2 separate regions of the Homo sapiens genome follow, and region 2 is linked to region 1. The links come from fine-mapping of genetic effects on gene expression. Tissue or cell type: esophagus muscle. Region 1 holds a variant in brackets; the other region holds the start of a gene. All regions are shown on one strand. Distances are from middle to middle.

Region 1 (5,196 bases):
AACAGTCTGGGCAACACAACAAAGCCCCGTCTCTACAAAAAATACAAAAATTTGCCAGGCGTGGTAACACACACCTGCAGTCCCAGCTACTCAGGAGCCTGAGGAGGAAGGATCACTTGAGCCGGGGAGGTGGAGGTTGCAGTGGGCTGAGACTGTGCCACTGCACTCAAGCCTGGGTGACAGAGAGAAACCCTGTCTCAAAACAAAAAACAACAAACAAAAGGTTAAAATGGTAAGTTTTATGTTATGTATATTTTACCATGACAAGAAAAGGCAAGAAGCCAGACACGGTGGCTCACACCTATAATCTCAGCACTTTGGGAGGCTGAGGCAGGTGATCACCTGAGGTCAGGAGTTTGAGACCAGCCTGGCCAACATGGCAAAACCCTGTCTCTACTAAAATTACAAAAAATAGCCGGGTGTGGTGGTGTGCACCTGTAGTCCCAACTACTTGGGAGGCTGAGGTGGGAGGATTGATTGAACCTGAGGGGCGAAGGTTGCAGTGAGCCAAGATCCCGCCACTGCATTCCAGTCTGGGTGACAGAGTGAGACTCCATCTCAAAAAAAAAAAAAAAAAAAAAAAAAAAAGGCAAGAATCCCTATGTCACAGGGATGGGTGTTGAGGTAGGTGTCAGGAGGGAGTATGGTAACCGCTTGGTCAGTGGTGGTTGAGATAGATTAAGTAGCTGGCAAGACTTTTCGGGTAAGATGGGGCTAGGAGCAGTGGCTCAGCCCTTTGGGAGGCTGAGGTGGGAGGATCCCTTGAGGTCAGGAGTTTGAGGCCAGCCTGGCCAACATGCTGAAACCTCGTCTCTACTAAACATACAAAAAAATTAGCCAGGCATGGTGGCGTGTGCCTGTAATCGCAGCTACTTGGGAGTATGAGGCAGGAGAATCATTTGAACCCGGGAAGCGGAGGTTGCAGTGAGCCGAGATCACACCATTGCACCCCCGCCCGGGTGACACAGTGAGACTCTGTCTCAAAAAAACAAAACAAAACAAAAACCTTTCAAGTAAGAGGGAAATTGTGAGCGAGGGAGGTTAAATACACTATAGTGACATGTAATAAAAATCACCCCAAAAGGCGTGGGTTCAAATCTGAACTCTACAATTCACCTGCTGTGTGGCTCAGAGCAAGCTCCCTAACCCTCTAGCCTGGTTCCTTCATCTATAGAAAGGCCAGGTTATCCAGCTGCAGGCAGAGGTGAATTCCAGGTTGGGGGAGGGGCAGGAAGTAGAGGACTGTCCTGGCTCCTGGCAGAGGCTCTTAGGGGAGTGCAGGGGCTGATCTCTACTCCTTCCTCTTGAGACCGGCCCCTCTGCAATTGCAAGCTCCCACCCAGGGAACAGCATCGGCTGCCCCTTCCCGCAGACAGAAGAGGAGGACAGCAGGATGGCTAAGCCGCCTCCCACTCACCCACCTCCAATTTTCAATTTCCACAAATCTCAGGCTGCAGAGCCACAGACAGGGTTCCTTGCTAGCCCTTCGTCATACCCCAGGCCAGAAGCTCCAGACACCTTTCTTCAGGGAGGCGGCTCCAAAGCCCAGCTGACCGACGGCAGCTCTCAGTAGGCGTTTCCTAGCCAAGGCAAGTCTGCGATTTTTTTTTTTTTTTTTGAGACTCTGTCGCCCATGCTGGAGTGCAGTGGTGTGATTACAGCTCATTGCAGCCTCAAACATTCCCTGGCTCAAGTGATCTTCCTGCCTCAGCCTCCTGAGTAGCTGGGACTACAGGCAGATGCCACCATGCCAGGCTAATTTTTCTTTTCTTTTCTTCTTCTTTTTTTTTTTTTTTTGTAGAGACAGGGTCTCACTATGTTGCCCAGGCTGGTGTCAAACTCCTGGACTCAAGCAATCTCCCCGCCTTGGCCTCCCAAAGTGCTGGAATTACACCACACTTAGGCTTTTATACCTGGCCTAGGTCTGTGATTTGAACAAAGCCACCTACTCATTGTGCAAGCCTCCACTGCTGCATCTGTAAACTGAGGCTACCTGTCTTGACCCTGGGCTGTCTGGGGGCACCAAAGGAGACAATGATAACTATAGCGTGCCTAGGACAGTGCCTGGCACCACAGAGTAACTGGTTAACGTCTAACCACATAGACATTAACTACCACCACCACTTCGAGTCTCCTGGCTCTTCCCCACCTCCTAGCCTCCCAGGGAGGGCTGGGCCAAA[C/G]TTTACAAGTTCCAGCTAGAGCTTATTCCATAGAGCTGTGCCCTGGGATTCAGGGGGAGGGGGAACAAGTCTCATCTATATCCAAAGATGACTTACATCTCTGGGCAGAGTGGGTTCTCCAAATCCCCCAGAGGCTAGAGGAACAGTAGACACAGGTCCTCCACACATCCCCCTCCCATAATCCACAGGAAATGCTAGCACCAGCACCCCCTGCCCATGGGGGCTTCCCAAGGGGTCCCTAACTCAGCACAAATCAGGAAGGATCAGTGAAGCTGAGAGAACTGGACTCCACACCAGGAGATGGGTCAAACCTCAGATTTCCACCTTGCTGGTCACTTAACCTCACCATGCCTCAGTTTCCTCGCCTATAAAATGGGGTTAACAATATCACCTACTCCTTGCAGGTTTATATGGATTAAATGACTTATTCAATGCAATGGCCTAGAAGAGATTCTGACACAGAGTGGTGGCTGCATGAGGGTTAGCTGGGATTACTTTCCTGCTCTTCTCCAGAGAAAGAGAGAGTCTTGAGCTCTGACTGACTGGCGAGATGGCTTCAGGGCAGGGCTGGGGTTGTTTTGAGTCAAGCAGCCCTGTCAATGCCAAGTTAATGGAGACTCCACAGAGGGTAGAAGGCAGAGGCCCTGGGTGTGGAGGAGGTTGGCCTTGGTCTATGTCCTGCTGCTGGCTGGCCCAGGAGGGTGCCAGTTAGGGGAACGCAGGATAGCAGACCAGACAGGTTGCACTGCATCCAGATGGGCTGGTGCAGAAGACACAGATCCAGCTGGCCATGGCCTGCGGTGGCACCATGCAGACACCATCTCCTTAATGCATCACACCCCTTCCCAGAAGCTGTAGTGATGACTCATGGGAAGGAGAGCTGCCCACAGTCCCCTAGCCAGGAAGAGGCAGAGCGGAGCCGACCCCAGAGGAACATGACCTTCCCCCATGACAGGCTGGGACCTTCTAAGTACAAATGCTGCTGCCTGCAAGAGTCCTTGCTAGCTGGGGGACAGTGTGTCAAGAGGCCCTCTTTGGGCTTAGCATTCATCTGGTCACACCTCCCTTCCACATCCAAACCATGAGCAAATCCTGTTGTCTCTTCCTGCAAAATCTGGCCAGTATCTGCCCACTGCTCACCTACCACTATGTCACCCTGTCCAGGCTATCACCTCTACCTGCCACTCTTTCTTGTCTTCACCCCTTCAGCCTGTTCTCAACACAGCAGCCACAGGGATCCTGTTAAAAGCCAGATCACATCTCCCCAGTGCCCCAACCTCCAATGGCTTCCCCAGAATAAAGGCGTAAGTCCCCACCCTAGCCTACAAGTCCTCCTCTTCCCCTTTCCTCTTCCCCTTGAGCCCTCTACTCCAGCCACACTGGTCCCTCGCTGTCCACGGACACATCAAGCATGCTCCTACCCCAGGGCCCTTGCACCTGCTGCTCTGTCGGGAGCTCCTCCCCAGGTCTTTGCATGACTTGCTCTCTCATTCCAATGAGGTCCCTATGCAAATGTCCCTTTGTAGAGACCATTCCTGAACCTCTATTTAGCCCCCACCCTCCATCCCTTACCCTGCTGTATTTTTCTTCACAGCACTTGTCACCCCTGACATATGATACATTCACTGGTCTGTGTTTACTGCCCATCGTCTCCCACTGGCATGCGAACTCCATGAAAGTAAGGACTTCCTGTGCTTTGCTCCCTGCTGCATGCCCAGTGCCAGAACTGTACCAGGCTCAGAGTGGGTTTCCAGGAAATGCACTGAACGGCCATTTACACCCTTCCCTACAGCAGCACATGCACAAGTGCACATGGACACTCACGCCCAGCCGGGAGAGCAGCCCCTCCCTGCCCAGGCTGCCTCTCCTGGAGCTGGACTCCACCCTCTGTGGGGGTCTTCCCTGCCCAGAGCCCAGGCACTCCCTCCACAAGAAGGAAAGAGGAACTGGTTTCCTGGGGGTCCTCAAGCAGGGTATCTGCTCCCCTCCCTGAGCCTGACTTGTAGGGAGAAGACGTAAGGTGAGTTAACCTTGAGTCTTTGATAACAGAGGAGGGTTAAGGAGGAGGGAGGACTCCAGACCCCAGCACTCATTTTTTGCTATGGGGGTCAACACTCGCTGCCTCTACTCTGCTGATCATTGGCTGCTCCCAGGACACACCACAGCCCATCGCCTGGGCGCCCTGTTTCCTCATTCTTGAATGACCTCCTTCCTTTGGGGAGAACTCTGGCGCTTCAGAGACTAGTTCAAATGTCACCTCCGGGGCAGAGCTTCTCCTCACCCTCCAGACTCCCCTGACCTTTCAGAACTCTGGGTCAGCACTTCCCTTATCACAGCTAGATGTCTCGAGGCCATCTGTCCCAAGCCCTTGAGGTCCAAGTCACAGTCACAGTGCCTGGCCATGATACATGTCTAGTAAGTTAGCCTGTGGATCCATAATGTCCACCCTGGAACAGGGAAAAGGGTGTGGGTTTGGGGTTGGACACCAGTCCTGGAGGCAAAAACCTAAGGCCATTCCTTATTAGATTGTGTGCCCTTGACCAAATCACTGGGTTTCTCTGAACTTCAGTCTCCTTTTCTGTAAAATGGGGAGAATATAGTACCTACTTCACAGAGCTTGAAGGGATTAGAAACAACACATGCACAGTGTCTGTGCTTAATTAATAGCAGCTATTACTACTATTACCCATGGGGACAGTGTTAGAGGCAGGACCCTGGCCAGGCAGGTCCAGCATAGCACTTTGCCCAAACTGAGAGTCCCAGCAGTACTGCAGAATGGAAGGGTAGACCCTGGCTTCAGGGGGCTGACCCAGAATGACACTTTTTTTTTTTTTAAGAGACAGGTCTCACTATGTTGCCAGACTGGAGTGCAGTGGCTGTTCACAGGCGCGATCATAGGACACTGTGGTCTCAAACTCCTGGGCTCAAGCAATCCTGCCTCAGCCTCCCAAGTAACTCTGGGTCAGCATTTCCCTTATCACAGCTAGATGTTTCAAGGCCATCTGTCCTAAGCCCT
Region 2 (5,106 bases), 420 kb after region 1:
TGGGCTGGGCAGGAGTGAGAAGGACAGTCCAGTGGGAGATGGGGGAAGGTTGGCCATGAACAGGCCTTTGGGGAGACTGATTTGATGGCACTCAGGCTCCATCCCACCTTCCTCAGGAAATCTCGAAGTCAGAGCCCCTACAACCATGAACCCTCACTGTGCCCTTGTCCTACTTCTGCCACTGGCAAATAAATCTCTATTCCTGGACAGGGTAACCTGAGCAGGGCTCCAATGGTGAGCTCGTGCTTGGGAGGGCAGAGATCCTATGAATGGCTGTGTGCATGGGGGGAGGTGAGTGGGGGGTGGAGGTGTTCACCCCACCCCTCAACTTTCAGGCTAGCATAAGGGCCCCCTTCAGCACCTCAGGCCCCCCATGTGGCACCCCCCACCCACAATCTTACCACCCACAGCAGAGGAGGAGGGAGACTTAAACCCAGAAGTCTCTCCACCCACACCAGGGAAAGGTTCTCTCAGCCACCAGTGCATCTCCCTTTTCTTGGGCAGACCAAGAGAGGAAGCCAGATCTGCTGGTCAGAGCCAGAAGGGGCAGAAGGAAAGAGGGCTGGAGGTGAGGGAGGGGGACCTGAGAAAATGGGTCCCAGATAATCAACATGCATTAGAAGAGGTATCTTGGTCAGGTGTGGTGGTTCACACCTGTAATCCCAGCACTTTGGGAGGCTGAGGCAGGAGGGTCACTTGAGCCTAGGAGTTTAAGACTAGCCTGGGCAACATAGCGAGACTCCATCTCTACAAAAAATTTTAAAATTAGCTGGGTGCAGTGGCATGTGCCTGTGGTCCCAGCTACTTGGGAGGGTTGAGCCCAGGAGGTCCAGGCTACAGTGAGGTGTGATCAAGCCACTGCACTACAGCCTGGCCAATAGAGCAAGATCCTGTCTCCAAAAAAAAAAAAAAAAAAAAAAAAAAAAAAAGAAGAAGAAGAGAAGGAGAAGAAGAAATATTGGAAATATCTTGAACGGGCACAGTGGCTCACGCCTGTAATCCCAATACGTTGGGAGGCCAAAGTGAGAAGATCGCTTGAGCCCAGGAGTTGGAGATCATCCTGTGTAACATAGCAAGACTTGTCTCTACCAATAAATTTTAAAAATTAGCCAGGCATGGTGGCGTATGCCTGTGGTCCCAGCAACTAGAGAGGCTGAGGTGGGAGGATTGCTTGAGCCTAGGAGTTTGAGACTGCAGTGAGTTATGATCGCACCACTGCACTCCAGCCTGGGTGAAAGAGTGAAACCCTGTCTCTAAATAAAAAAATAAAAAAATAAAAAATAGAAGGTTATTGTGGAGAGAGGGGCACCTTGGAAGGTGATGGTGAGGACCTCTTCCCCCACCTCTCTGTATTATCCCCTGATCTAACTCCAGTTGTGGTAGGATCTTTAGGAGGGGAGCGTGTCTCAGAGAAGTTTGGGGACTTTGGGTGTGAGGACTGAGCCCCCATCTCTGCTGAAGTTCAGACGCCAAGACTGGAAGGGGATAGAGTCATCCGGCTTTCCATCACAAGGAGGAATTGTCCGGCCTGGCCTTTGACACATACACCATAGTCCAGTTGTGTGTATATTTGGAGAGAGCCTTTTCAGGGTATAAAGGCATCCAATTAATGGCACAGATGGGTCCCCATTCTTCCTTCACCAACCTCTGGCATCTATCAATCTTCGCTCTTTGGAAGTCCTAGCTTCGATCTCACTCTCCGCTATCTTGCTGCGGCCCCAACCTATTTCTATTCCCTGCAACCCATCCAGACGCTACTATGATCTCCCCAAGCTTCCCTCAATCTGGTCACGCCCCTCCATCCCGGGTTTTTCAGTGTGAAACTCCCTCCTCCGCTTCTTTCCCCGCCAAGCCCCGCCCCATCGTGTCGAGCCCCCCAAGACTCCGCCCAGTTCGCCCTCCTGGCCACCGAGGCAGCCAATAGCTGAGAGCCTGATTTGCAGGGCTGCGCGGGGGAGCGGCGTAGGGCAGGGGGCGGGACCAGGCGACCTCCTAAATCAAAGTTGGGCGGCGAGGACTGGGCGGAGGGGCCGCCGGGTGCCGGGCTGGGGCCGGCGGGGGAGGGGAGGGGATGGGGGGCGGGCGCAGCGGACGGCGGAGCCGGCTGGACACGGACAGCTCCTTGGCTCCCTCCCTCGGCTCATCCCCGCGGCCCCACTTCCCTCCTCCCCGCGCTGCGAGCAGCATCCTCTGCAGACCCTCGGTCCTCGCGCCCGGGGTCGTCCCGCTCCTGCGGCTCAGCGTGGTGGCCTCCCCTCGCCCGCCACCCCGGCAACTTTCTCTGCCCGCTCCCGCGGGTTGGGGGCTGCCGTGCCGGGGGCTAACTGGGGGCAGCCTCTGGAGAACGGCTTCAGAGTCCCGGAGACGCCCGCCACCCGCAGCCTGCCCGCGGTGGGCCTGCCGTCGGATCTCGGCACCCTCTCCTCCCCTCTCCCCGAACCATGACCGAGATGAGCGAGAAGGAGAACGAACCGGATGACGCGGCCACCCACAGCCCCCCAGGGACCGTCTCCGCCCTCCAGGAAACCAAGGTAACTTGGGGGGCGCAAGGCCTGTCCGCGCCCCGGGCCCGGGCGCCCTCTTCCCGGCGGGGTCCTCCTGTGGGCCCGGGCGTCCTAGGGTCGCGGTCGCGAGGCCCGCGTGACCACTGAGGCTCCGCGCCGCTCCCGGGGGTAGGAGTGGGTTGGCGACGAGGGGCCACAAGGAGCCCCCGATCACACCGGCACCGCACGCCCGCGCGCGCCATCGCGACCTTCTGGGGAGGCGGCCACTGGTCTTCGTTGGAGAGATGGGCGCAGCGAGGCCGGAGGGCGCGCGTGGAGCGGTGCGGGCGGGGTACGCGCCCGGCTGTGCGTGCGAGGCGCACCCTCCAGCGGCCGCCGGGTCCCAGTCCCGGGCTCAGTCCGCGCCTCTATCCTCGCTCGTGTCTCTGAATTTGTCTCTACAACCTGCGTGTCTGTGTCTTGGTGTCTCTGTGTGCGTCTCTCCCCGTCTCTCCCGGCGTCTCCGGGTGTTTATCTCCGCGTCTCAGGGCGTCTCTCCCTGCCCCTCCGCAGTCCTGCATTCCCCGCTCCTAGCCCTGTTGGGCTCGGGGACGCGAGGCCGCGGCCGGGGGTGCGCAGCTGCGGAGTCCGCGAGGGGGCCTGCAGCAGCGCCGGCCGTCGGTCACGGGCGAGGACGGGGGCCTGCGGTTGTGGCTCCAGACCAGAAAGACAGGCAGCCCCGCGCCCCACCACGGGAGCGGGACCAGAGGAGGGGGAGCGGGTAGAAGCAAAAAGAGAAGTCATCGTAATTAATGAATGTCATCATTAACCCTAATTATGGATGATTGTTACTCCTGAGGGAGTCACCATGAATAAATTACTCCCCGCGAAGGCAGGCGGAGCCCAGACTCCTGGCGCTGAAAGGGGTGTGGGGAGGCCGCCGCTCACACTCAGCACTCCCCCGACCTCTAATCCGTCTGCTCCCTTCCCAAGTTCTAGGTGCTGGCGACTGGCCCGCGAGAAGTTCTGTTTCTGCGGGATCAACCTGAGCGGGCCTGGGGTTGGGATAGAAAGGGCTGTGCCAAGGGCGCGCCCTGCCACCTCCCAGACTTCAGGCCAAGACCTCCTCCCTCCCCCTTCACCCGGTATTTTGTTCCCATCCTGCTCCTGTTCTCCAGAGGCGAAAGGGGACAGTGAGGACCAGAAATGATGGGAGCCTGGGCTCCGGAGGCGTCCTGGGTTCGCTAGGCTTCTTTCCACTGTCCCCCTTCCTCCTTCTTCCATCTTGACCATCCCGCAGGAGCTGAGGTTAATTCAAGGTCAAGGTCATCAAGGGAGTGACCGGAGGAGGAGGCCGTAGGGTCAGGGTGGAGTCTGGCAGAGGCACCCCAGGGAGCCCCCATCCTGCACCAGGGGACCCAGCAGGTCTCCACATTCAAGTCTTCACATGCACACCTGACTCTCTCTTGCCCCCTTCTAAAAATGAGACTCTGGTCTGTGAGGCCAGAGCTGACTCCCCTTTAGAGAGCCAAGTCTCAGTCTCTCCTGGGAAAGGACTAAGATGTTTGGGTGGGAGGATATTGCTTGGAATATTTGTGACAACTTCTGTCAAGCAGAAGGTCTAGGAGCTGAACCTCCCCTGAGTTCCAATGCCCCTGATTTCGGTTGCCCTCTAGTCACCTGGGTAGACATACACAGTCCCCCTGCTTGCCTCCAGGGGCTTGGGGGCCTCCCAGGCCCTGCCCTGTTTCCCACACCAAGGCCTGTCCTCTCCAGCCTCCTCCTATGTGGGAGTGCTGGAAGGCGGGCAGGAGTGTGGGGTAGTGCTGCCTCAGTACTCCAGCAAGCTGCCTGCTCAGCTGTGTGGGGAGGGAAGGTCAAGGGCCACAGGTCTGTACCTCTCCCTCTTCCCAGGCCAGGGACCCTCCAATGTTGTCACCTCTGGGTCTGAGCTTGGAGATTCAAGGAGTAGGGGAGGGGAGGGGTTACACCCCTGATCCGGCCCTTCTGTGTCAGGCCAGCTGGAGCCCCGGCCCTCCGCCCCTCCCCTATACATCACTCTTGTGAAGGATTCTGCACTAACACAGACTGGGCTGTGGGTTGGGTCGGGGGTATTCAGCAGGGCAGAGGTGGGCAGAGAGAGAACTCAGGACCCCTGCTAGCCTCCTTCCATCCTGCACCTCAACCTGGCCCAAAGAAGCTCCTGTCTCCAGACTGTGGGTGGAGATGGAAGAGTACAGTTGGGTGCCGCCCACCAAGCTCAGTGTGAGGCAGGTACAACAGAGGGGGCCAATGCCCTTCAGGCAGTGATGCCAACATTCCAGGCTTATTCATCAGTGTTGGTGCCCCCTGGGAATCACTGGCCAGCCTCCTGCTTGCCCCCAGGCTGAATCAGCCCTGCACCCAAGCCACCCAGCAACCTTCCTAGCGAGTCCTCCTCCTCTCTTGGTCTCCTTCCCTTCTTATCACATAAGGCCTGCCCATCACCCTTTGTTGCCACCCCTGGGAGGACCACCCCATGCCATCTCTGCTGTGAGTCAGCTTGTGCCACGTCTGCCACCACCCACTGCCAGATGCCTCATGCCCTTTCAGGAGACGCCGTGGGGAATTGAGGAAATAAGGG

Direction of the effects. Positions count from the first base shown, and alleles are read on the strand shown. Sizes are in standard deviations (SD) of each study's normalised expression.
As copies of C replace G in region 1, the expression in esophagus muscle of the gene that starts at base 1,999 in region 2 goes up (large effect, 0.87 SD a copy in GTEx).

Evidence for each region. PIP is the estimated chance that this variant, and not a neighbour inherited with it, causes the effect.
Region 2: STAC2 starts here. The variant in region 1 is fine-mapped to the expression of STAC2 in esophagus muscle (GTEx, PIP 0.91).

Annotation. Positions count from the first base shown.
Region 1 is chr17:39,641,274-39,646,469 of GRCh38, reverse strand. The region is part of intron 1 of STARD3 (StAR related lipid transfer domain containing 3); the gene reads right to left. Among named protein-coding and RNA genes, the nearest start is that of STARD3, 6.7 kb to the right of the region's middle. The variant C/G (reference allele first, on the strand shown) is at 2,181.
Region 2 is chr17:39,222,838-39,227,943 of GRCh38, reverse strand. It overlaps STAC2 (SH3 and cysteine rich domain 2), which reads left to right and starts at 1,999. Exons shown (of 11, transcript NM_198993.5): 1 at 1,999-2,531. The coding sequence starts at 2,442. RefSeq lists an enhancer at 2,241-2,741 and a silencer at 4,404-4,573.